Linked DNA regions of Homo sapiens: region 2 is linked to region 1. Evidence: fine-mapped expression QTL. A gene starts in region 1. The other region holds a variant in brackets. All regions are shown on one strand. Distances are between the middles of the regions.

Region 1 (12,262 bases):
CTCAGCCTCCCAAGTTGCAGGACTATAGGCACATACCATCATGCCTGGCTAATTTTTTTATTTTTTATTTTAGAGATGGGGGTCTCACTATGTTTCCGAGGCTGGTTTCTGACTCCTGGTGTCAAGCAATGCTCCTGCGTTGGCTCCCAAAAGCAGGATTACAGGTATGAGCCACCATACCTAGCCGAGAGATGAACTATTAATGGGGGCAACAACATGGATGAATCTCAAAGTAATTATGCTGAATAAAAGAAGGCAGACAAAAAAGAACATTCATACTGCACAATTCCATCTTTATGAAACTTTAGAAACTACAAACTCCTATAGAGTGACAAAAAGCAGATAAATGGTTATCAGGAGAGGCATAAATGGACTTAAGTAGGTACATGGGGAGACTCTTAGGCGAGATGGATATGTTCATTTTCTTGACAGACGTATACATGTTAAAACATCAAATTGTACATTAAAAATATGTGCAGTTTTTTGTATATAAATTATCCTTCAATGAAGCTATTTTTAAAGTCCCAGAAAAAAATTTAAAGGACATACCTCCCTTCTCCAGCCAATCCTTGTGTTTTAGGTGGAAGTTCCTTAGCTTTAACAGCTAATATCTCATTTAAAATGATTCCTGTTTCTCTCCATCAGCCAGTTTTAAAACTGATGTAACAACAACAAAAAATTCACTTTGAAAAATTAAAAATCCAAGTCACAACATTGACAAACTCTCTGTAACATGAACTAGGCATATTAGCTGGTAACTTGGCATTGTTGCAGGTGAATGTGTGATTTCTGTTATCTTAATGCTAAAACTAGCTAATGGCTCCCTCAACCCAACCAACCCACCAGTATTATCTCGGAAGCCTCCCAGGGTATGTGCCCATGTGTCAACTTAAGACATACTGCAGCAATATAAACTCTTATTCTCTAACAAACCTAAAACAAACCTATTAAAAGAACTCTACCAGAATTTACCATAATGTAATTTTATCTCCAAGATGATAAACTTTTAAATTCTATATTGACAATCACATACAGCTCAGGTACAAAGCATGTATGAAACAGTAACTTCTAAAAAGAACACGCAGTTAACTAAAACCTTGAAAATTCAGGATACTTTATGTGAGTCAATATGCAGTACAACTTCCTTAGTAAGCTTCACGTAGTCCATGAAATACAATAGGAAATTCATGTCTTTGCTTTAATGAGAAAGACTAAGGTTGGCATTCCTGTGCCTTTGATTAAAGAGTGGTTCTGTACAAGTTGGGAAGGCCACTGTTTGTAATGATGACTGCAGCTTAGGGAAGTAAACATCTACCATAAGGGAAGAACCGAACATAAGCCTTCCTGGTAAGTTCAGCAAATTAACCCTCATGTCCTACAAATCAAGAAGGGACAGACTTAAAATTTGAAACTTGGTAGGACTTGAAATACAGACCAGCAAAACATCTTATGATAGGGATTTTCTATACTTTTATTATTAGGAGGATAAAGACACTAGAACATGTGGCGTGATTAGTGACATGTGAAAAGCTTAATGATCATTTTTTAAAAGCTAAAATATAACATACATACATGTATTTTGAATCATGAAATACTTTTATTCTTTTAAGTGACAAGTTCTCCTATCACAAGGTCCTCAGATTGGTCATTTCCTAGGAAACAAAGTTCACTATTTTAATCCCATCAAAGTCATGGTGGCCCATTAGGTATCAGGCGTCTTGAATTCTCACACTGACAACACTCAGCTGTGCAACTATACATGAATCATAGATTCTTTCTGGGCTAAAAGTATGCGACTCTAAAATGTGGAGAAGCCAAGAGTTTGAGTCTTACACTGTCTATGGCTTCACATACCAAGACCAAATAAGGTTCTATGTAATTCATATTTCCTTCCAGCAGCCTTGTGTAATAATCATGAATTTTAAAATTATTTTTTTAATGCCTACAGCAGATTACAAAAAAATACGATATTTTAAAATTTGTTTAAGTCTTCAAGAATGTATTAAACAGGTTTCCCCACCATACTTTTAAAGGCAATGATAAAAATCTTTTACATACTGATAGGTAAAAACAATTGCCAAATAACAGTTGCTCCTACATACATATAAATGATTTGTAACTGTTGTTCCTAAATACACATAAAATGTCATCCTAAAACTGACCAGGTATGGTTGTCCATTACTGGGTTAGTTGACATTTTGGCACCAAAACTTTTTCACGATTAGTCATTCTCTTCAAGCTACTGCTAGTTGACTTTTCTAAAGTTCTTAATCCATAGCAGTAAGGGGTAGATTTTTCTTAAAAATGAAGTAGCACTGAATACTGTGAATCAAAATAACCTTTTCATGGCATTATTAAGAAAGTGAAACCTTTAGGTATCTGTATTTTTAAAAATTAAATTATGACGTAAAATGGAAAACAAGAAAATCATGGAGATGCATAGGAAAATACAGCAGAAATATCCAGAAGTGCTGAGAGGTTGTCCTTGATGGTGAGACTATGGGTGGGCGTTCCTTCTGTTATATAGCTATTCATTTCCATAACAGAAAAAATCTACATAAATTTAACAACTGCCTTATAAAACGCGTAGGGTGTCTCTCCACTCCAAATACTAAAGAGATTAAGCCACAAAGGTCACACCAAAGAATCAAGACACTGCGATCGAAACAGAGTTTTTTGAACGCTGTTACAGATATATCCTCCTATGGCCTAGACAGAGCCCATGACCAAAAAGAGGAGATTCTCCTCATCTAAGAATCATTGAAAAAACAAAACAAAACAAACAAAAAACAACCTACAGTAGCAAAGAATGGCATCGTCATTTCTGCTCACACCACCATACAATGGAACGTGGTGCAATTAAATCCCACTTATTATAGAACCCCAAATACTCGATTCCAACCACGCCAACACCCTTGCAGTTCCCCCAGCCCACGTGTATATTCTCTGGATTGATGGGATGGGATTAATTGTCCCTCTTTGAAAACCTTACTCATAATCGCTACTCGCTGAGGAATATGAACCCGAGTCGCTGACCCGATCTTCAAAATCATAGTCCTCATCTTCTTCTTGTGAAGAGGGGTCTCCAGGGAGCTCGTCTGAGCTCGGACGCGAATCGCACGAAGCCACAGAGGCCATCGTCAGGAATGCAATAGCTACGAGTGGAGTAATTCAAATCTCGCAGCTATAGCTTGCTAAGGCCGCCATGTTGCCTCTGCTTGGGAAGGGGCAGAGGCCATGTGACCACCAATCCTTAGCTGCAATTGGTGGCAGGTCGCGTTGCCAGGGAGACGGAGAAGCTTCCCAGAAGAAACAGGGAGAACAGAAAGCAGCCAATGGGCTGAAACTTCCAGGAGGGCTTCTCAGTTGGAAGGATAGAAATAGCTAAAACTTCACCGCTTACGCTCTCCGGAACGCAATTCCTTAGAGCAGCATAACCTGTTAAAACAGGCGGAGATGCACTGGGCTTCTCACCTTTTTCTTCCAGTGCTGGATATCCAGTTTGCTCTTTGTCCTGTGTTTCTAATGCCTAACAGCTGTCGGTCAGCCTGGATTTCCTTCGAGGTGAAGGAAACCGCACTTTACCTTTCCTTAGGACCTCATCCGTGCAAGTAATGGACGCTTTTAAGCAACGCGATCTAGGTGTTAATGTAAATACGCTCCATTGTTTTATGGGTTTCATATTGTTTCGCAATTGCAAACATTTTCACGGTTATCCCAAGTGGGTATTGTAGAGTGCCACAAATGAGTGGCAATCCTGTGGAATCAACTTCATGTTCATTTTCTAACTCAAAATTTTATAATCTAATTAAGTGTTCTCATTATTAAAGTTGGAAGTGTAAACAGGTAAAATCTACCTGTTATTTATGAATACCTATATCAAGTATTTTTTAAGTACAAAAATAACAGCTAGCATTGATTGAGAGTCAGCCTTGGCTCTGCTCACTTTATTCATATACAATGCTGAGCATTCACATACTATGAAGTAAATATTTTCTCTATATTAAATAAGGAAACTAAGCTTTAGAGAAGTTATGCATCTTACTAATGGTTACATGGCTAGCAGTCAACAAAGTCAACCAAGAAATGAACCTAAGTCAATAACCATTACATGAAATTTCCTCCCTCAGAACCCAGTAATTCAACTATTAGATATCTACTCTGAGAAAGGATGCAAATTTATAAAATTTGTAAAAGTGAAAAGCTGAAAGCAATCTTAAAATGTCAAATAATGGGGGAAAAGTTAAATATATATAAAATATGATGATTATGATTTTAACTAGAATGTGTTCAAAGAGTAAAGCATGGGGGAAATGTTCATGTTGCAGCGTGTAAAAAAAGGATATAATGTTATTTTATGATCTAAAAGGCTGGGTGCTGGGGATTCTCTAATGGGCAATTATAACATAGTGATAAGTATTACAATAAATACAAGGTTCTAATGGAATATCCAGAAAAAACCAAAGTAGTATACGTGGGGCCATGACAAATTTCTTAGAGGAAGTATTAATTTATATTGTTATTATGGCATGGTTCCAACAGAGAAAGAGTAATGGGAGATGAGTCATCACATGGCCGGTATGGGTATATGCATGGAGAACTCAAAGGAACCTGAATTGTAGCTGTTGCAGGGGCAGAAAAACTCTACCTCCATCTTCTTAGGGTCCCAGCTGGGCCTGAGAATTAAACTTACCTAAAATAGATTAACAAAAGAAAAGCAACTGGAACTTGTTATACAGATGTTGAGGCCCTGCTCCACATCAACAGGATCAGAATCTCCAGTGGAGGGGCCTGGAAATCTCTATTTCAAACAAGTGCCCCCTGTGATTCAGCAAACTTGGGGAACTGCCCTAAATTTTCTCTCAGTTCTGTGCTTCATCTATACAGGCCAACTGGCCATTCCCTGAATAGGCTGGAACCCACTCCCACCTCGCAAATTTGAGCCTGGCAGACAGACCTCTCTCCTTGCTCTAGAATCCAAGTTTTACATGGCAGGGGAGCCCTCATAAAGAAATGAAGACCCAAAGAAGCAGTTAGAGTCAGTTAACTTATATACTGGATTGGACAAAGAATAGTTAGTTGTGAAGAAGCAACTAAACTAAATTGGGAAGCTTAAAAGATAAGTTATTTTAACAAGGTCTGTACAGAATTCTCTTGGTTTCACTTCTATGCCCTTGAGAATAAGAATGTTACATTTTTCTAGTATAGGGAGGGTGTCTTTCACATGGGAGCTTCATCTGTTGCTTTTAAGAAGCAGCACAAAGGCACTTGCTGTTTTTCAAGTGTATTAAACTTAAATGGCCAGGATAGTATATTTTACCTTCCTCACAGCCAAACAAGCTGCAGTATGCAGCTTATACTTTTAAGCTGAAGTTTAGTTGTATTTACATTAACTGTACATTACATGTACAAATATACATTAAACTATGTACATTTGAATTTGTATATTACATGTACAAATGTACATTAAACTATATACATTTGAATTTCCTAGGTTTTATGGTTTTGTTTTAATTTCTAAATGTGTTTTTATAGTGTTATAACAGCGATTACATTTTGTAATTTATTTGTATTAATTCATAAAATTGTTTTCATCTTATATAGGAGCTATAAAGCACAGATTATACCTCATTTATTTAAAATTATAATTAAAAAACTTAAGTCATCCATGGAAATCCACAATAGTTTTTCCTTAAAAGAGGTCTATATGTTACTAAAGTTGAAGAACAGGAGGAGGAGTTTGTAAAGGGGTAATGGGCAAAAGGAGTGTCAGAGGCATTTGAACCAGAGCGACTCCATCTTGAATAGGGGCTGGGTAAAATAAGGCTGAGACCTACTGGGCTGCTACTCAGGAGGTTAGGCATTCTTAGTCACAGGACAAGATAGGAGGTCGGCACAAGATACAGGTCACAAAGACCTTGCTGATAAAACAGGCTGCGGTAAAGAAGCCAGCCAAAACTTACCAAAACCAAGATGGCTACAAAAGTGACCTCTGGTCATCCTCACTGCTCACTATACGCGAATCATAATTAGAGTACAGTGAGCAGTGAGGATAATGAGCATTAGTTGCTAAAAGACACTCCCATCAGCATCATGACAGTTTACAAACGCCATGGCAATGTCAGGAAGTTATCTAATATATTCTAAAAAAGGGAAGACCCCTCAGTTCTGGGTACTACTCCCCCTTTCCCAGAAAACTCATGAATAATCCACCCCTTGTTTAGCATATAATCAAGAAATAACTATAAGTATACTCAGTCAAGCAGCCCATGCCGCTGCTTTGCCTATGGAGTAGCCCTTCTTTTTTCCTTTACTTTCTTAATAAACTTGCGTTCAATTTACTCTATGAACTTGCCCCGAATTCTTTCTTGGGTAAGGTCCAAGAACTCTCTTGGGGTCTGGATTGGGACCCCTTTCTGGTAACAGGAGGTCCTTGAGGTGGTAGGAGGGGATAGCATCCAAGGCACAGAAGGAGGGATATGACCTCCCTGGACACCTCTTCCCTAAAACTAGAAGAAAGAGCCAAAGAAGGGTGCTGGTGTGGATGGTGACTTGCCAGTTTCAGGCAGGAAGCTGAGGCAGTCTCCATGTGACAGTGTTTATCGTCTGGTAAGTAGGCTGCAACCTTGCCAGCTGAACGTGATGGAGGAAGTAATGGGGTCGGAAGTTTGAAGAAAGTGGAGACAGGAAGGAAGGGAAACAAATATTTCCATTAGCATTGAGATCCAACAAAAAATGTATTACTTTTAAAATCAGAGAAACAATATTATTTTAAAAAGCTGGAGTCCCTATACTCATTATTTTGAGTTTCATGGTAAAATATATATGCTTACTTTCACCACAATCTTAAACATTAGAAATGATTTAAGATTCCATTTCAAAATAAAAAGTGCTTTAGTTACCTCTTTAATAAGTTAACCTTTCCTTGTTTTAAAAGCAACTTATTGGAAGTAAAAAATAAAATAAGAAATTAAAAAAGGACATTTACAAATTTTAGGAAAATATCACATTTTCTTCCTACAAATTTTTCATCAATTTTTTTTTGTAAGCATCTAGTAGTTTCATACCCTGCCTCATAAACCTTGCATGGCACCTCCTTAAATAGAGAACAAAGTCCAAACTGTGTAGCTTCTTTTAAATTTTTTTCTCCAATTCTACAAACAATTGAACACCAATTCAGAATTAAATGGTTTATTCCATGTTACATCGTAAGTTAATCAAGCTGATCAACTTGTCTATTCAAAAGAATCAACTGGAGCTTGTTATACAGATTTTGAGGCCCTGCTCCACATCAACAGGATCAGAATCTCCAGGAGAGGGGCCTGGAAATCTCTATTTTAAACAAGTGCCCCCAGTGATTCAGCAAACTTGAGAAACTGCCCTAAACTTTCCCTCAGTTCTGTGCTTCATGCATACGGGCCCACTAGTCATTCCCTGAATAGGCCGGAACCCACTTCCACCTCCTGAATTTAAGCCTGGCAGACAGACCTCTCTCCCTGTTCTAGAATCCATCATCCACGTAACCTTGAGCAAATGACCTCCACAAGCTTCACTTTCCTTATCTGTAAATTCAGAAAATGGTACTTACTTCACAGGACTGTTTGGAATCTAATGAGTTAATGCATGTAAAGTACCTAGCACATAAAGCATCAATAAAACAGCTATTTTATCTCATTTACTCACACAGTTCTCTTACTGTGGAATGATACTTACCCAAAATTCATTTGTTGAAATACTACACCTTTCTTCAAGATCCAATTCAAACAGCACCTTTTCCCAAAAGCCCTCCTAGACACATCTCCTACCTCAGTAAGAATTCCTTTTTCTACTCTTTCCTCATAATCTATCCCATAAAATTAGGTTATAACTAATATCAGTCTGTCTTATATCTAAATTAAATAGGAATACATCTATCATTGCCACCAAATGACAATCTCCTGGAGAACCTGACTGGGTCTTTTTTTTTTTTTTCTCTTCAGTCTTTCACTTGTCACAAGGTTGAACTGGAGCAAAAAATGCCACATGAAAGTATACCTGCTAGGACGTTAGCTATATTCCTGAGTTACGTTAACTCCCTTGGCTAATTTACTTCCATGTGTTAGTTAAATGGATAAAAGTGAGCAACAACAAAATTTACCACCTCGCTTTATCTTTCATCAAAGAAGAAATAATAGCAATCATTTTTATCCTTATTTTAATTTTCAGGTTGTAGTATCAATTAGTCATATTTCTAAATTTACATATCATATTTCTACTAACCTTGCTAATATTTAATAAGCTTAGATATTTTTGAAAGGATGAAGAAAGGAAAGGAATAGGATGCCATTTTCAGGGCCTTTATAAGAATATTCTGTGTGTTTCATAATTAGCAATTGCAAGAAGATTTAAGAGATTTAGACTGGGGTATATTTTCATTTTCTCTTTTCCACTACAAAATGACCAGCCATCTTCTGAAGCCCAAATATGTTTAATTTAATGCATATGAGACTTGACATCCTTATTTCCATAGATTACCATCTTGATTAGGCGAACTACAATTCTGACATAAAATACACCAGAAAAGGACATAATTAAATATTTAGTATCGTTAGCAGGTTCAGGAGCTCTTTCTCTAGTAGTAATAGAAGCTGGCAATGAGAAGTAAATGAAAATAGGGCCACATGAGGTCATATTCATTAAAAATTTAAACTACAAGGTAAAAATTATGTAAGAGTTTTGTTAGAAACTAATATTGCCTTAATTGTGAACACAGAAATAATAATACTTTATGAACTATGTGGTAATAATGACAGCCATAATTATTTTTAAAATATGAATAAATAACTTGGTAGACCAACAAAATAGCATTTTAGAAAGTGAGACTTTATTATGTAGAAGATTTCAGATTTCAGAGTTTATATATCAAAATAACATTTCAGCAATCCTAAAGGTACAGAATTGCATTATGGTCTAAAATTCTCATTTCCCTCTATAAAAGTTGAATTACTTGTTAAAATGCATACAACTTACCTGCAATAAGACCATATATTCCACATTTGAATAGTAATGGAATACAGATGAGAATCCAGAAGCACAAGTGAGACTAAAATAGATGGCACAAAGCTCAAGCCCAAAACCCAATTCATTTACTCCTATTTCTTTTCATTTTAGATCTTCATTTACAAATTATAACAAGTTTGGCAAGCTGTTCTACCACTATAGATCAATAGCTGCCAATCAGAAGGAAAGAAGGCTCCCTTAAAACAGGAATACAACAACCCTGGAAATTGTTGATGGCTGACAATCTGCTGATGAAGAGGAAAGTAGAAAACAAAAGGCAGACATGAGAATTAACAAAAAACCATAGTTTATAAATAACTGCCAAATGACCTAAGTAGCACCTAAAACAAAAAAATTCACAGCATTGTTGAATCCTACAATAATTTGACATCGACTGTAAAAAACACTTGATAATCTGTAAGTGCCATGCATTCTCCAGTCAGGGGATCCAAGTTCTCATCCTGATTTTGGCACCAATAACCAAGTGGAAGTGGACAAAGTCAGTTTCCTCATCTGAAGGCAGCAATAATAATCTCTGCCTACTCTATAGGGTTGCTGAAAATCAAATGAGATAACCCTTGAAATCTAATGCCTTATACCTTAAGAAACAGAGCAGTGTGTACTTTATATTATATTTTCAAAAGCTGTTTTTTTTAATTATTCATTTTAGTTTTTATTTTTAGATCTTAAAAAGATATTACATACTCTTTTACTAACAGGAATATTACTTAATTGGGCATACCCCCTGAGAATTCTGGATAGTTGCGGTATTTTGAATTTGCATATTTTCACCTTTGGTAAGAGTATGAAATTTGGGTCGTCAAAAATTTTGAGAATCACCTCTAGTTCACTCTCTCCATTGGCTTAGGGGTCAAAAAACCAGCACTCCAGCCTGGACCAGCACCATTCATTAGCTATTAGGCCTTGGGCAAAGTCACCAGGCTGAATCTTCTCAGAATCTTTAGGAACTATCATTTTGTGTTTTGTTTTAGTTTTTTACTATAGAACAGTTGTTACCATAATCCCTTATATTTGACAGAACTTTAGTTTTATAAAGCACTTCCATATCATCAGAAATTCACACCAACACCTTGTGAGGTGGGTATTATCCCTTTATATTACAGAAAGAACAGGGGAAAATATAAATAAGTTAAAAGTCTTGCCAAGTCACACAACTACTGTGCAACAGAGGAATTAGGACTCCAAGGAAATGATTAATTTGCAATAGTATTGTGCATATGTTTTTTTAAAAAAATTTGCAAAATACTGAGTATTAATAGTATTGTTTGGTTATTTCTTATAATCAAGATGACAGAAAAATAACTTAAGTAACTGAGAAATACAATACTGATGCTTTTCCTTGACTCAGACAACTTATGTGTAACTTTTTTCAAAAAGCAGAATAGTTAAATTTATTTTGCTGAGCTATTGTTATTTTACAATTGACATTTTGAAGTTAGCACCTCATGCAGAGAAAAGTTTGCAGCTTTGCTTTAATTTTGGTTTGGCTGAAGTATCTTTTTCAAAAGCACAGCAATTTAATGCTTTACATTTTAAAAACCATATTTGCAATGGAAAATATACAAGTAATTTAAAAAAGGACACACTCACAAGACTTACCCTTTAAAGTAACACGTTAAAATAAAACAGTCTGTTATTTTCTCTTAATAACATGGCTACTAGTCTCTTTAATGCAATTGCCAAAATTTTGTATATAATTTACGATGGATGTTTTAAAGGAAAAACATAAAAGTTTTGTAACAGTAATACTTTTAAAATAGGCCATGCATTGATATACTTCATGAGAACTATGATAAGTACAAGTATGATTTAAGGGTTATCAAATCTCCCTAATTTCTATAATATTATGCCTAAACAAATCTGTATATATACAAGCAAAAGACATTTGATTAGATGTGAACTTGTGTGAAACACAGATGCATTAAATGAAAGAGAAACCTCTACAGATGTCTAAGTTTTTTAAGTGCGTGTTTGAAAACATTAAATAATAAATAACCACTAATAAGAGTAATGCATTGCAGTAGCAAAAAGATTTTCGTATAATGTTAAAAAGAAAGCACTGTTAGCCATGATACTGACAAACATATTTATAGTTCCAGATTCCATTGGTTCCTCCAGCATATGGGAGCAGTTATTTGTAATTCAGATAAAGTAGTTTTTCATTGTAATACTGAGCAGGTTATTCTAAAAATATTCCACTACTTCCGAAATAATCATCTCAGTCTTGATGACTATAGCTTAAACATATTCTTTTGCCTGGTTTATTCGGACAGGTTTGTGCCTTGGATCTGAAACCCTAAAGTGTTCATCAGTTTGAAATTTTTTGGCACTTGACATTTAAAACATGAGAAATATAAAGAAATTCTGTTGCAGCAAGGTCTTAAGCTTTTAAAATTAGCACCCCTCCCGGCTTTACAACAAAGTCATGCTGTGAATGAGTTTTTAGTTAATGCTTCTTGGGATTTATTCCTGGACTATAATTTTATCAAATGCAGGGGGAATTTTCTTTGGGAATTTAGCAGAATATCCTTTTCACAGCTCGTTTAATAATATTTTCTTTTATATGGCAGGGGCTCTTTGGGGGTTGGGGGAAACCAACTGCAGAAAATTGCAGGTTTCAGAAGACAGCTCTGAAATCGCAGACACCCAATTTCTCCCTTGCACACTTTCTTTTTTACTCACACTTCCAATAGAACAGGATTTCTACAGCTCATATGGTTTTGTACAAAGACTTAAAAGGGCCACTTGAAACGTTTACAGATGAGAGGGCTCACATAAACCTCCCCCTGACAGATATTTACGAAGCGCCACTTACTCTTTCTCGCCACAAACGTATTCAAGAGACACTTTAGATATATTTCTAAGAGTTCTTTTTCCCTACAACGTCTTATGAAGGCCAGGCCTTCCTAGAACTAAAGCAGCATTAACTGCTTGGTATTTCATCCATCCTCTCTTAAAATTGAAAGACAATTTGCTCTTCATGTGGACTATTTCTTTCTCTTCTATAAACCCATCACTGTAACCACAGGATTTAATATTTGTTAGTCTATTTTGCATAAAGGATAAGGTTGGACGAAAGTACCAGCAGTGAAAATTAATGCACTAGCAGCTTACAGAAAGTTAGGGTTCTCATTCTTCCTAGAGAAACTCTTAAATTTCTTTTGTGCAGTTTTTGGTGTGTGGGCGCAAGCGCATGCGCGCG
Region 2 (12,854 bases), 28 kb before region 1:
CATGATGTCAAAAAGTTTAGTTTTCTCCAGGAAGATTTAATAATTCTAAACATTAATGCACCTAACAAAATTGTCTCAAAATATATAAAGCATAAATATTTAGAACTGGAGGGAAAAATGGACAAATCCTCATCAGAGGGGGAGATTTCTATATCTTTCTTAATTATGAATAGGCAAAGCAGACAAGAAACCAATAAAAGATAAAACTTGAACAAAACAATTAACAGCCTCAAAACATTGAGGTTGAAAGGTAACCTGGTATCAAAGAAAGGGCATAGAATTTGGAAACACTTCAGCTTAAGTAGAAATTGTCAGTTACTAGCTATGTGAACTTAAACATTTTACTTATCTTTACTAGGATTATGTCCTTTACCTGCAAATAAAAATACCAAATATCTGATATTATGCTAGACAAAAAGTACGTATTCAGTAAACATTGAAAATGAATTTAAAAAATAATATGTAAAACATAAAAACTATTTACAACCTATGGAAGAAAGTTAATGCTACATCCCCCTGCATTAAAAGCTATTAATAGCAGGAGGGGATTGATTGTAACAGAGCACAGAGGAAATTTTTTGAGGTGATAAAAATGTCCCATATCATGATTGTGATACTGGTTATAAAAGTGTAATATATTTGTCAAAACTCATCAGATTGTACACTTAAAATTGTTGAATTTTATTATGTATAAGTAATAATTCAAGGAAACATATCAAAAAAAGCTAAAAAGACCTTAGCTTCTAAGTTAAAAGATATTGCAACGATACCTTCCTCTTTTTTCTTTTCCTACAGAAATAACTGAATAATTTGTTTTCATTTTAAAAACATTTGTGGTATGAAATATTCATATCTATAATAGAGTATTAGATACACAATTTTAAAGAAAAACAGTTAATTCATTTTTGTCTCTTGCTTAAATCAAATATACTCACTATTCACTGGGAATACGATAAAAGGTCCTTACTTTTTCCTTTGGGCTTTTGACTAAACTTATTTCCTTTGGACTTTTGAGGACACTCACCTCTTCCTTTGAGGTTTCTGAGTCGAGCTGTAGTGTGAGATACATAATGATATGAGGAGTGTTTAGGCCACTCTGCTGGATACCTTCAACCTCTTCTCCCCAGAGAAGCTTGACTAAATCACTTGTGTTGGACTGTGTCTTTTTCTGTCTTGGATGGGACGTCTCCCTTTTCACATCATATGCATTTTCAAATGTCAGTTTCACCTTTAAAAATTAAAACAATGTGTTGACTTTTCGACAAGGGAAAATCAGCTGCAGTTTTCACAATGAAGGATCTGTGCATGTACATACACCCAGGTATGTACAGTATATATAAATCATCCTAGAGTGAGTGCTCCTGATGGCTGGGACTACGTATTCTATTTATATTTGTATCTTCGGCTCCTAGGAGAGTGTCTGATACATATTACCACAAATATTTATTGAATAAGAATTATAATGTTCTGTATAAAATTCATTTAATTAAACATAATCATTGCAGTCTAAATTGTTGACTATAAAAATAAGAAAGGCCATCAAAAACCAGAAATTAGTATGATCTGATAGTGCAAAAAGAATAACACCACAATATCAATGCCGATAGCACTGGCTTATCTGGGAAGATAGAAGGAAGACATTCAGCATTAAGAGTGACTTCACACAACCAAAGTTAACTCTCCTTTCAAATAAGGTGGTATTTCAAATATTCTTCTCTCAGACATTCTTTCTGGTTCTTTAAAACAAAGGCCAAGGAAAGTAAACGCTATCAGCATGCTGGATCTTAGACCAACATGGCTCTAAGAAGATTATCAATTTTATCAAGAGAGTTTTAATTTCATGGCCTGATGTCAAGATTGGTAAGAGTCCAGAATGTGGCCATTTTCCACAGGTATGGAAAGGTAGCCTCCATTTCTCAATTACCTAATGGTTCTGGTACTGGTCTGTGGCCTGGGGGTTGGGGACCCCTGGTGTAAGAGGATGCCCTTATTCTTAGGAGATACATTTCAAAGTACTTAGGGATGAAGTATTAAAATTACCTATCCTTGGAAAAGGAAATATTTGTCTAGATACCAATTGGTCAAAGATAACTCGTTCATTTCAAAGAAGTACCAAAATTGGATAGCCACACATAGAAGAATGAAACTCTGTCTCTCACCGTACACAAAAATTAACTTAAGATGGATTAAAGACTTAAATCTAAGACCTGAAACCATAACAATTCCAGAAGAAAATGTACTCTTTGGATACTGGCATAGGCAAAGAATTTATGACTAAGACTCCAAAAGCAAATGCAACAAAAACGAAAATAAATAAATGGGACCCAATTAAACTAAAAAGCTTTTGCACAGCAAAATAAATAATCAACAGAGTAAACAACCTACAGGATGGGAGAAAATAGTTGCAAACTACGCATCTGACAAAAAAACTAATATTCAGAATCTCTAAAGAACTCAAATCAGCAAGAAAAAAGTAATCCCATTAAAAAGTGGGCAAATGACTTGAACAGACATTTGTCAAAAGAAGATATACAAATGGTCAACAAACATGAAAAAATGCTCAACATGACTAATCATCAGGGAAATGCAAGTTAAAATAAAATGAGGTACCTACCACCTTACTCCAACCAGAATGGACATTATTAAAAAGTCAAAAAACAATAGATGGAGCAGACGTGGTGAAAAGGGAACGCTTATGCCCTGCTGGTGGAAATGTAAATTAGTACAACCTCTATGGAAAACAGTATGAAGACTTCTAAAAGAACTAAAAGCAGATCTATTATTAGATCCAGCAACCCCTCTACTGGGTATCTACCCCAAATTCCTTTATCTGAGAATGAGGATTTAGGAGTACCCAAAAGAAAGTATATGGAAGACTTTGGTGGTGTTCCCTGGAAATTTGAGAACTCTTTGGGGAATTCCTGAGTATAGACTTTGTGACAGATAGATGGGAGCTCTGAAGATTGTCCCCTGGCATTGGGCTTTAGGAAGGAGCTCTGAGTGGAGATGTGTGAGCGGTACAGAAGGGGAGAAATCAAATCAGAGGGAGCATGAGATGAGTCACATCCTAGGGAAGCAGGTGTCACAGAGATGAAGCTGGAGTGTCTATGAGAGTTGTGCATAAGAAGTGGTGACAAGAAAGCGGGTCCTCAGAGAAAGAAACGCATCTCAGAACAAGGAAGGCATCTTTCCCAGCTGAGATTCTTATGGGTGGAGAGGTAGGGTGCAACCTACCAAAAATAAAAAAAGGGAAATTTTTAAGTCTACCAAAAATAGACTCAAAAATTCACCAATTTTCTTCAGGCAGCAGCAACAACCTCAAATTTAAGATTGGTTTGCTATGCTTGGTGAAAAACAACATACTTGAAAACTAGTGTTATACTTGGCAAACAACATCATTTATTTTCTGTGGTGCAAGGACCTTTTTGTCTCACCACAACAAAAACTCAAACAAAAACACACACCACCGAACCATCCATTAAAATTCCTTAGGGAACTATTTCAGCCACTATTCTTCTGATTTAAGTAAAGTTGGCTCCATAATACAAATAAAATTATACTTTAAAAAGACATTTTTAAAAGCTTACATGTTAAGTAGCTACAAATGTCAGGAAATCTGGTTGCCTTGATAAAATGGTAAAGGGTGAGACAGATAACCAAATTAAGAGTTAAGTGCTATTTTAAAAAATAGGTTGATATACATAAATATTAGGGATATTATATGTTTTATAGGGAAAAACTTTTATTAAATGATACTTAACATAAGTTAGTTTACATGAAGCTTCTTATAAAGGGTTTTCTCTTATTACTCGGTGAGACTTTAACCTGGTACAAGGTTCAGGATCCTTCGTGTCCTATGTCCCTCTTCTTTGTGCGGTTTGCCCAGCCTTTCCTCAGACCCAAGGACGCACTCTCTATGACTCATCACTTCCAAAGTCTTGTTGCTTTGTCTTTTCTTTCTACTTCAGTCTTTAGCCCATCCTATTTAAAAAGCAATGTCTCTTCCAAACAAAGAAATCATCTACCAAACAAAGAAATCCTCTGATTCCCCTTTAGCTACCATCCTCTTCACAGATGGGACCTGGGGAGGCTGTCAGAATCTGCAGCAGCTGTGGAAGCTGACCAGTCTGTCACCTCTGCTTCAGTCTGCACCGTCTCTCCCATCATCTACACTGCTCTCTGCATGTGTTGTCCTTTCCCTGTTGGCTAACAGCTGGCAGATGATTTCAATACTCCTTAGTCAAAATTCTGAGGGAATCGAGTCTGACTGGCTCAGCAGATTATCTCTCCTCCATCCTCTTCTCTTCTTGGGCCACCTCACTGAGTGACTCAAGACAAAACTTGGAAGGCTTCTTGGACTTCTCTCTCTCCTGTAGAAAATATTGTCCTCTTTCCTTCCTCTCTATCTTAAATCTAATCTCCTCCTCCATCCCCGGTCAATAAAGGCTCAGGCCTTTATCATCTCTCTTCTGGACTACTGCAAACCCAACCACCTGGTTTCCTGACCTCCTGTCTTGCATATGCCTCCCCCATCCAGAGTGATATATTCCTAAAATGCAAATTTGATTTGCATGTAAGTCCTGCACTTTAAAATGTTGATATAAATGGTTACTTCTGGGTTCTGAGAATAGATTTACAAATATTTAAAAAATTTTACTAGTTTGTTTTCTAATTTTTCCACAGTATATGTATCATTTCTGTGTAACAAGGAAATAATAAAAGTTAAAACACTCCACTCAAGAATCATTTCCTTTAAGAAGCCTTTGCCCCCTCCTTTAGGCCTAAGAACTACCTGAGAAAGAAGAGTCCAAGACTAATAATCTTCAGGCTGTTCTCCTAGAAAAGGAGTTAGGTTCCTCCAAAGCTCTAAAAAAGCCAGCTATGGCCCAGTACTAAATGAAATCAGTCTTCGTCATCTGCAAAATTTGGACCCAAGCTCCCGGATAAAGACGGGAAGAGACGATGTACTACAAGCATGATTATGTACCTGTTAAATGAATGAGAGCACAGAGCTGCAGAAACGGATCAGGGTCACAAAAGTCAACAATTAGATGGGTATTTGCACCTTTGTTCTTGTTATTTAAAATTTCGAAAACCTCTTCTTTAAATCAACATTTTATTTTAGAAATTTTAAAACTACAGAAAAGTTGTAAGAAGAGAACAATGATTGCCCATAATCCCACACCTAATGGCACTATTGCTCACATTTTGTCACATTTGCTTCATTTTGTCTCTTCTCTCTGGTCTTCCTTTCCTTTCCTTCCATACTCCTCTCTTCTCTATATGTATTTTTTAAGTTTCTTGGCTGAACCTGCAAATTATTTGCAGGTATTTTAACACATTGTCCCTAAGTACTTCAGCAGGTATCTCCTAAGGATAAGGGCATCTTCTTACAGGCCATGGACAGGTACCAGAACCATTAGGAACCAGGTGGCATAGCAGGAGGTGAGTGGCCAGTGAGCGAAGCTTCATTCATATTTATAGCCACTCCCCATCACTCACATTATTGCCTGAGCTCTACCTCCTGTCAGATCAGTGGTGACATTAGATTCTCCCAGGAACACAAAACCTGTTGTGAACTGTGCATGTGGGGGATCTAGGTTGTGCACTCCTTATGATAATCTAATGCATGATAATCTGTCACTGTCTCCTGTCACCCCCAGATGGGACCATCTAGTTGCAGGAATACAAGCTCAGGGCTCCCACTGATTCTACATTATGGTGAGTTGTATAATTATTTCATACTAATAGAAATCGTGCATACAATAAATGTATACTTGACTCCTCTTGCATGTTTAACAAGGATGGATTAATTGTGGATGGAACTGGTCCAAAATATTAAATCCTAATTTCTTTCTCTCCCTTTTTCTTCTGCTAAGTGTGCACAGTTGAATTTGCAAAGGTTAATTAAATATAAGTATAATGTGATTCTGCTGTAAACATAACTTTTCATATTTTTGAAGAAAGAATAGACATGATTGAACTCTGGCAATACTGGAAGCACACCTGCAACCAACATAGGCAAGAAAAGGGGATCCCTCACTCAGGATAATACATAGCTACTCCACTTGGGGGAAGCTGACTCACTTGTCAAAATACTGCAATTCTTCACTATTAATCAATAAGTAGCTGCTGTCTGAGCACCCTGAAGTACCCTAGTACCCTCTGTTGGACCTCCCCACATCTAGTGACTAAAGTGGGTAACAGTACAACCTACTCTAGCACCATGGCTGGCTGATGTCCCCCTGATTGTTACTATTTCAAACACCACCCCATCTCCATCTCCATCTCGCTATCCATTCCTAGGCATTGCTGGTCTCAGCTACCATAGTTATTCCAGCACTTTCATTTTACATTTCCAAAGATAGCTAAATTTACAGAGCATCTGTGTGTGTGTGTGCATGCGCACACATACATGTGCATACAAAGTATGTTTAAAACAAATAAATGGGCATTAGGGAAACCTTGTTTCCCAGAAAATAAGGAATTTCATCATGTGCCTTATTATTTCAGAATCTCAAATCAGATGCAGCTGAGATTCTGATTTATCAGGGATTCTATTCTTCAACCTGACCAATCCAAAAACGACTTCATCCTCTCACTGCCTGATGGGTCCTCTGTCCCACCAGTCTCCAGACTTTTTGGCACCAGGGCCTGGTTTCATGCAAGACGATTTTTCCACAGACCAGGGTTGGGGGACGGTTTCAGGATGATTCAAGCACATTACATTTATTGTGCACTTTATTTCTATTATTATTATAATACATTGTAATATATAATGAAATAATTATACAACTCACCATAATGTAGAATCAGTGGGAACCCTGAATCTGTTTTCCTGCAACTAGATGGTCCCATCTGGGGGTGATGGGAGACAGTGACAAATCATCAGGCATTAGATTCTCATAAGGAGCATACAACCTAGATCCCTTCCTTTCATGCACAGATCACAATAGGGTTCGTGCTCCTAGGAGAATCTAATGCCACCCCTGATCTAACAGGAGGTGGAGCTCAGACACTAATGTGAGCGATGGGGAGCAGCTGTAAATACAGATGAAGCTTTGCTCGCTTGCCCACTGCTCACTTCCTGCTGTGGAGTCCAGTTCCTAACAGGCCACGAACCACTACCAGTCCGTGGCCCAGGGTTTGGGGACCCCTGCTCTAACCCACATAAAGCATATAATCTTCCCTATCCCCCCAAAAAGAGAATGCTAATTCCTGATGCTATCTAGAACAGAGTATTCATGGTATACTCTGTTACCAAAAGGTATAGCACTTGCAAAATACCCCTAATAACTGAAAAACATCATCTACGATACACAATGTCAATGTTTAGGGTATCAAAATTACTTTTTATAAAATAAATTTATTTCTATCTACAAGGATTGAAAAATAATTCCTTAAGTAGCCAAACAAAAGTCCAGGAGAAAAGCTTAATTAAATAACAAAAAAAATCAAGAAACTTGTATGATTTGTTTTTAAAATAAAATCACATTGGAAAAAAAAACATTATAGCAACAGTGATCTTAGTAAGTCAGAGAACAGAAAACTCCCTGACTATTTAAAATGACTCTTCTAGGAACCAGATTGTCACAAGCATATATGGTAGTTATAATGGCAAGTTTGCAATTATGTATGTTTTCATTACTGTTGCTGTTACTGCTTTATGTAGAATTTTACTTGTAGATATTTTTCTCTCTTTTTAGAATAATCTCCAGAAGCTAATAATATTAGCAAGAGCTAAATTTTCTTAAATAGGCAAGTATCAGTGTAACTCATCCATTATACATGATACTTTTCAGACGCTTAAAAAGGAAAATAGTGCACGATATATTTATATATTTATTTTATGTAACATCATAAAATATAGAAAAAGAATGTCCATACCTGCATAGGTCCAGGAATGCAAGACAGAACTCTCTCGATGTTTTCAGTAGTAACATCGACATCATTCACAGCAACAAGGACATCACCTGAAACCAGAATAACAATAAAAGATAGTTTTATGAATATCTAAAAACCATAGAGGTCTAGAATTGGAACATTAAACAGCTACTCTGACATCCTCAAAGTACAGTGAGAAATCTGGTGCAGACAAGCAGGAACTTGTCCAGGTTTATACAGCTCATTGGTGGCAGGGCTACTCTCCTAACTTTACTCTTCTTAATCTATAATACTGCCCATTATTGCACCATAAATAATACAACCTATGAATATTTTAAAAAATAACTATTTTTATTCTTGATACAATTGGGAGAATTATGTAAACCCAAAGAACAAATGGAAAATTTGTTAGCATGAACCAAATACTGTACTTGACAAAACTGAATCTAACCACTTAGACCCACAGTAAAAACAAAACAGAGGAGCCAAGATGGCCAAATAGGAACAGCTCCCGTCTACAGCTCCCAGTGTGAGCGACGCAGAAGACAGGTGATTTCTGCATTTCCATCTGAGGTACCGGGTTCATCTCACTAGGGAGTACCAGACAGTGGGCGTAGGTCAGTGGGTGCGCACACCGTGTGCAAGCCAAAGCAGGGCGAGGCATTGCCTCACTTGGGAAGCGCAAGGGGTCAGGGAGTTCCCTTTCCGAGTCAAAGAAAGGGGTGACGGACGCACCTGGAAAATCGGGTCACTCCCACCCGAATATTGCGCTTTTCGGACCGGTTTAAAAAACGGCGCACCACGAGA[T/C]TATATCCCGCACCTGGCTCGGAGGGTCCTACGCCCACGGAGTCTCGCTGATTGCTAGCACAGCAGTCTGAGATCAAACTGCAAGGCGGCAGCGAGGCTGGGGGAGGGGCGCCCCCCATTGCCCAGGCTTGCTTAGGTAAACATAGCAGCCAGGAAGCTCCAACTGGGTGGAGCCCACCACAGCTCAAGGAGGCCTGCCTGCCTCTGTAGGCTCCACCTCTGGGGGCAGGGCACAGACAAACAAAAAGACAGCAGTAACCTCTGCAGACTTAAATGTCCCTGTCTGACAGCTTTGAAGAGAGCAGTGGTTCTCCCAGCACGCAGCTGGAGATCTGAGAATGGGCAGACTGCCTCCTCAAGTGGGTCCCTGACCCCTGACCCCCGAGCAGCCTAACTGGGAGGCACCCCCCAGCAGGGGAACACTGACACCTCACACGGCAGGGTATTCCAACAGACCTGCAGCTGAGGGTACAGTCTGTTAGAAGGAAAACTAACAAACAGAAAGGACATCCACACCAAAAACCCATCTGTACATCACCATCATCAAAGACCAAAAGTAGATAAAACCACAAAGATGGGGAAAAAACAGAACAGAAAAACTAGAAACTCTAAAACGCAGAGCACCTCTCCTCCTCCAACGGAACGCAGTTCCTCACCAGCAACGGAACAAAGCTGGATGGAGAATGACTTTGACGAGCTGAGAGAAGAAGGCTTCAGACGATGAAATTACTCTGAGCTACGAGAGGACATTCAAACCAAAGGCAAAGAAGTTGAAAACTTTGAAAAAAATTTAGATGAATGTATAACTAGAATAACCAGTATAGAGAAGTGCTTAAAGGAGTTGATGGAGCTAAAAACCAAGGCTCGAGAACTACGTGAAGAATGCAGAAGCCTCAGGAGCCGATGCAATCAACTGGAAGAAAGGGTATCAGCAATGGAAGATGAAATGAATGAAATGAAGCGAGAAGGGAAGTTTAGAGAAAAAAGAATAAAAAGAAATGAGCAAAGCCTCCAAGAAATATGGGACTATGTGAAAAGACCAAATCTACGTCTGATTGGTGTACCTGAAAGTGATGGGGAGAATGGAACCAAGTTGGAAAACACTCTGCAGGATATTATCCAGGAGAACTTCCCCAATCTAGCAAGGCAGGCCAACGTTCAGATTCAGGAAATACAGAGAAGGCCACAAAGATACTCCTCGAGAAGAGCAACTCCAAGACACATAATTGTCAGATTCACCAAAGTTGAAATGAAGGAAAAAATGTTAAGGGCAGCCAGAGAGAAAGGTCGGGTTACCCTCAAAGGGAAGCCCATCAGACTAACAGCGGGTCTCTCGGCAGAAACCCTACGAGCCAGAAGAGAGTGGGGGCCAATATTCAACATTCTTAAAGAAAAGAATTTTCAACCCAGAATTTCATATCCAGCCAAACTAAGCTTCATAAGCAAAGGAGAAATAAAATACTTTACAGATAAGCAAATGCTGAGAGATTTTGTCACCACCAGGCCTGCCCTAAAAGAGCTCCTGAAGGAAGCACTAAACATGGAAAGGAACAACCGGTACCGGCCGCTGCAAAATCATGCCAAAATGTAAAGACCATTGAGACTACGAAGAAACTGCATCAACTAACGAGCAAAATCACCAGCTAACATCATAATGACAGGATCAAATTCACACATAACAATATTAACTTTAAATGTAAATGGACTAAATGCTCCAGTTAAAAGACACAGACTGGCAAATTGGATAAAGAGTCAAGACCCATCAGTGTGCTGTATTCAGGAAACCCATCTCACGTGCAGAGACACACATAGGCTCAAAATAAAAGGATGGAGGAAGATCTACCAAGCAAATGGAAAACAAAAAAAGGCAGGGGTTTCAATCCTAGTCTCTGATAAAACAGACTTTAAACCAACAAAGATCAAAAGAGACAAAGAAGGCCATTACATAATGGTAAAGGGATCAATTCAACAAGAAGAGCTAACTATCCTAAATATATATGCACCCAACACGGGAGCACCCAGATTCATAAAGCAAGTCCTGAGTGACCTACAAAGAGACTTAGACTCCCACACATTAATAATGGGAGACTTTAACACCCCACTGTCAACATTAGACAGATCAACGAGACAGAACGTCAACAAGGATACCCAGGAATTGAACTCAGCTCTGCACCAAGTGGACCTAATAGACATCTACAGAACTCTCCACCCCAAATCAACAGAATATACATTTTTTTCAGCACCACACCACACCTATTCCAAAATTGACCACATAGTTGGAAGTAAAGCTCTCCTCAGCAAATGTAAAAGGACAGAAATTATAACAAACTATCTCTCAGACCACAGTGCAATCAAACTACAACTCAGGATTAAGAATCTCACTCAAAACTGCTCAACTACATGGAAACTGAACAACCTGCTCCTGAATGACTACTGGATACATAACGAAATGAAGGCAGAAATAAAGATGTTCTTTGAAACCAACGAGAACAAAGACACAACATACCAGAATCTCTGGGACGCATTCAAAGCAGTGTGTAGAGGGAAATTTATAGCACTAAATGCCCACAAGAGAAAGCAGGAAAGATCCAAAATTGACACCCTAACATCACAATTAAAAGAACTAGAAAAGCAAGAGCAAACACATTCAAAAGCTAGCAGAAGTCAAGAAATAACTAAAATCAGAGCAGAACTGAAGGAAATAGAGACACAAAAAACCCTTCAAAAAATTAATGAATCCAGGAGCTGGTTTTTTGAAAGGATCAACAAAATTGATAGACCACTAGCAAGACTAATAAAGAAAAAAAGAGAGAAGAATCAAATAGACACAATAAAAAATGATAAAGGAGATATCACCACCGATTCCACAGAAATACAAACTACCATCAGAGAATACTACAAACACCTCTACGCAAATAAACTAGAAAATCTAGAAGAAATGGATAAATTCCTCGACATATACACTCTCCCAAGACTAAACCAGGAAGAAGTTGAATCTCTGAATAGACCAATAACAGGAGCTGAAATTGTGGCAATAATCAATAGTTTACCAACCAAAAAGAGTCCAGGACCAGATGGATTCACAGCCGAATTCTACCAGAGGTACAAGGAGGAACTGGTACCATTCCTTCTGAAACTATTCCAATCAATAGAAAAAGAGGGAATCCTTCCTAACTCATTTTATGAGGCCAGCATCATTCTGATACCAAAGCCGGGCAGAGACACAACCAAAAAAGAGAATTTTAGACCAATATCCTTGATGAACATTGATGCAAAAATCCTCAATAAAATACTGGCAAAACGAATCCAGCAGCACATCAAAAAGCTTATCCACCATGATCAAGTGGGCTTCATCCCTGGGATGCAAGGCTGGTTCAATATATGCAAATCAATAAATGTAATCCAGCATATAAACAGAGCCAAAGACAAAAACCACATGATTATCTCAATAGATGCAGAAAAAGCCTTTGACAAAATTCAACAACCCTTCATGCTAAAAACTCTCAATAAATTAGGTATTGATGGGACGTATTTCAAAATAATAAGAGCTATCTATGACAAAACCCACAGCCAATATCATACTGAATGGGCAAAAACTGGAAGCATTCCCTTTGAAAACTGGCACAAGACAGGGATGCCGTCTCTCACCACTCCTATTCAACATAGTGTTGGAAGTTCTGGCCAGGGCAATTAGGCAGGAGAAGGAAATAAAGGGTATTCAATTAGGAAAAGAGGAAGTCAAATTGTCCCTGTTTGCAGACGACATGATTGTATATCTAGAAAACCCCATTGTCTCAGCCCAAAATCTCCTTAAGCTGATAAGCAACTTCAGCAAAGTCTCAGGATACAAAATCAATGTACAAAAATCACAAGCATTCTTATACACCAATAACAGACAAACAGAGAGCCAAATCATGAGTGAACTCCCATTCACAATTGCTTCAAAGAGAATAAAATACCTAGGGATCCAACTTACAAGGGATGTGAAGGACCTCTTCAAGGAGAACTACAAACCACTGCTCAAGGAAATAAAAGAGGATACAAACAAATGGAAGAACATTCCATGCTCATGTGTAGGAAGAATCAATATCGTGAAAATGGCCATACTGCCCAAGGTAATTTACAGATTCAATGCCATCCCCATAAAGCTACCAATGACTTTC

Alleles and levels. Positions count from the first base shown, and alleles are read on the strand shown. Sizes are in standard deviations (SD) of each study's normalised expression.
As copies of C replace T in region 2, the expression in iPS cells of the gene that starts at base 3,216 in region 1 goes up (large effect, 1.2 SD a copy in iPSCORE).

What was found.
Region 2: its variant is fine-mapped to the expression of INTU in iPS cells (iPSCORE, PIP 0.95).

The regions. Positions count from the first base shown.
Region 1 is chr4:127,623,911-127,636,172 of GRCh38, reverse strand. It overlaps INTU (inturned planar cell polarity protein), which reads right to left and starts at 3,216. Exons shown (of 16, transcript NM_015693.4): 1 at 2,993-3,216. The coding sequence starts at 3,138. RefSeq lists enhancers at 3,187-3,366, 3,029-3,568.
Region 2 is chr4:127,651,755-127,664,608 of GRCh38, reverse strand. It overlaps INTU (inturned planar cell polarity protein), which reads right to left. Exons shown (of 16, transcript NM_015693.4): 3 at 7,888-7,973; 4 at 1,025-1,228. Among named protein-coding and RNA genes, the nearest start is that of INTU, 25 kb to the right of the region's middle. RefSeq lists enhancers at 8,063-8,661, 8,662-9,262. The variant T/C (reference allele first, on the strand shown) is at 8,692.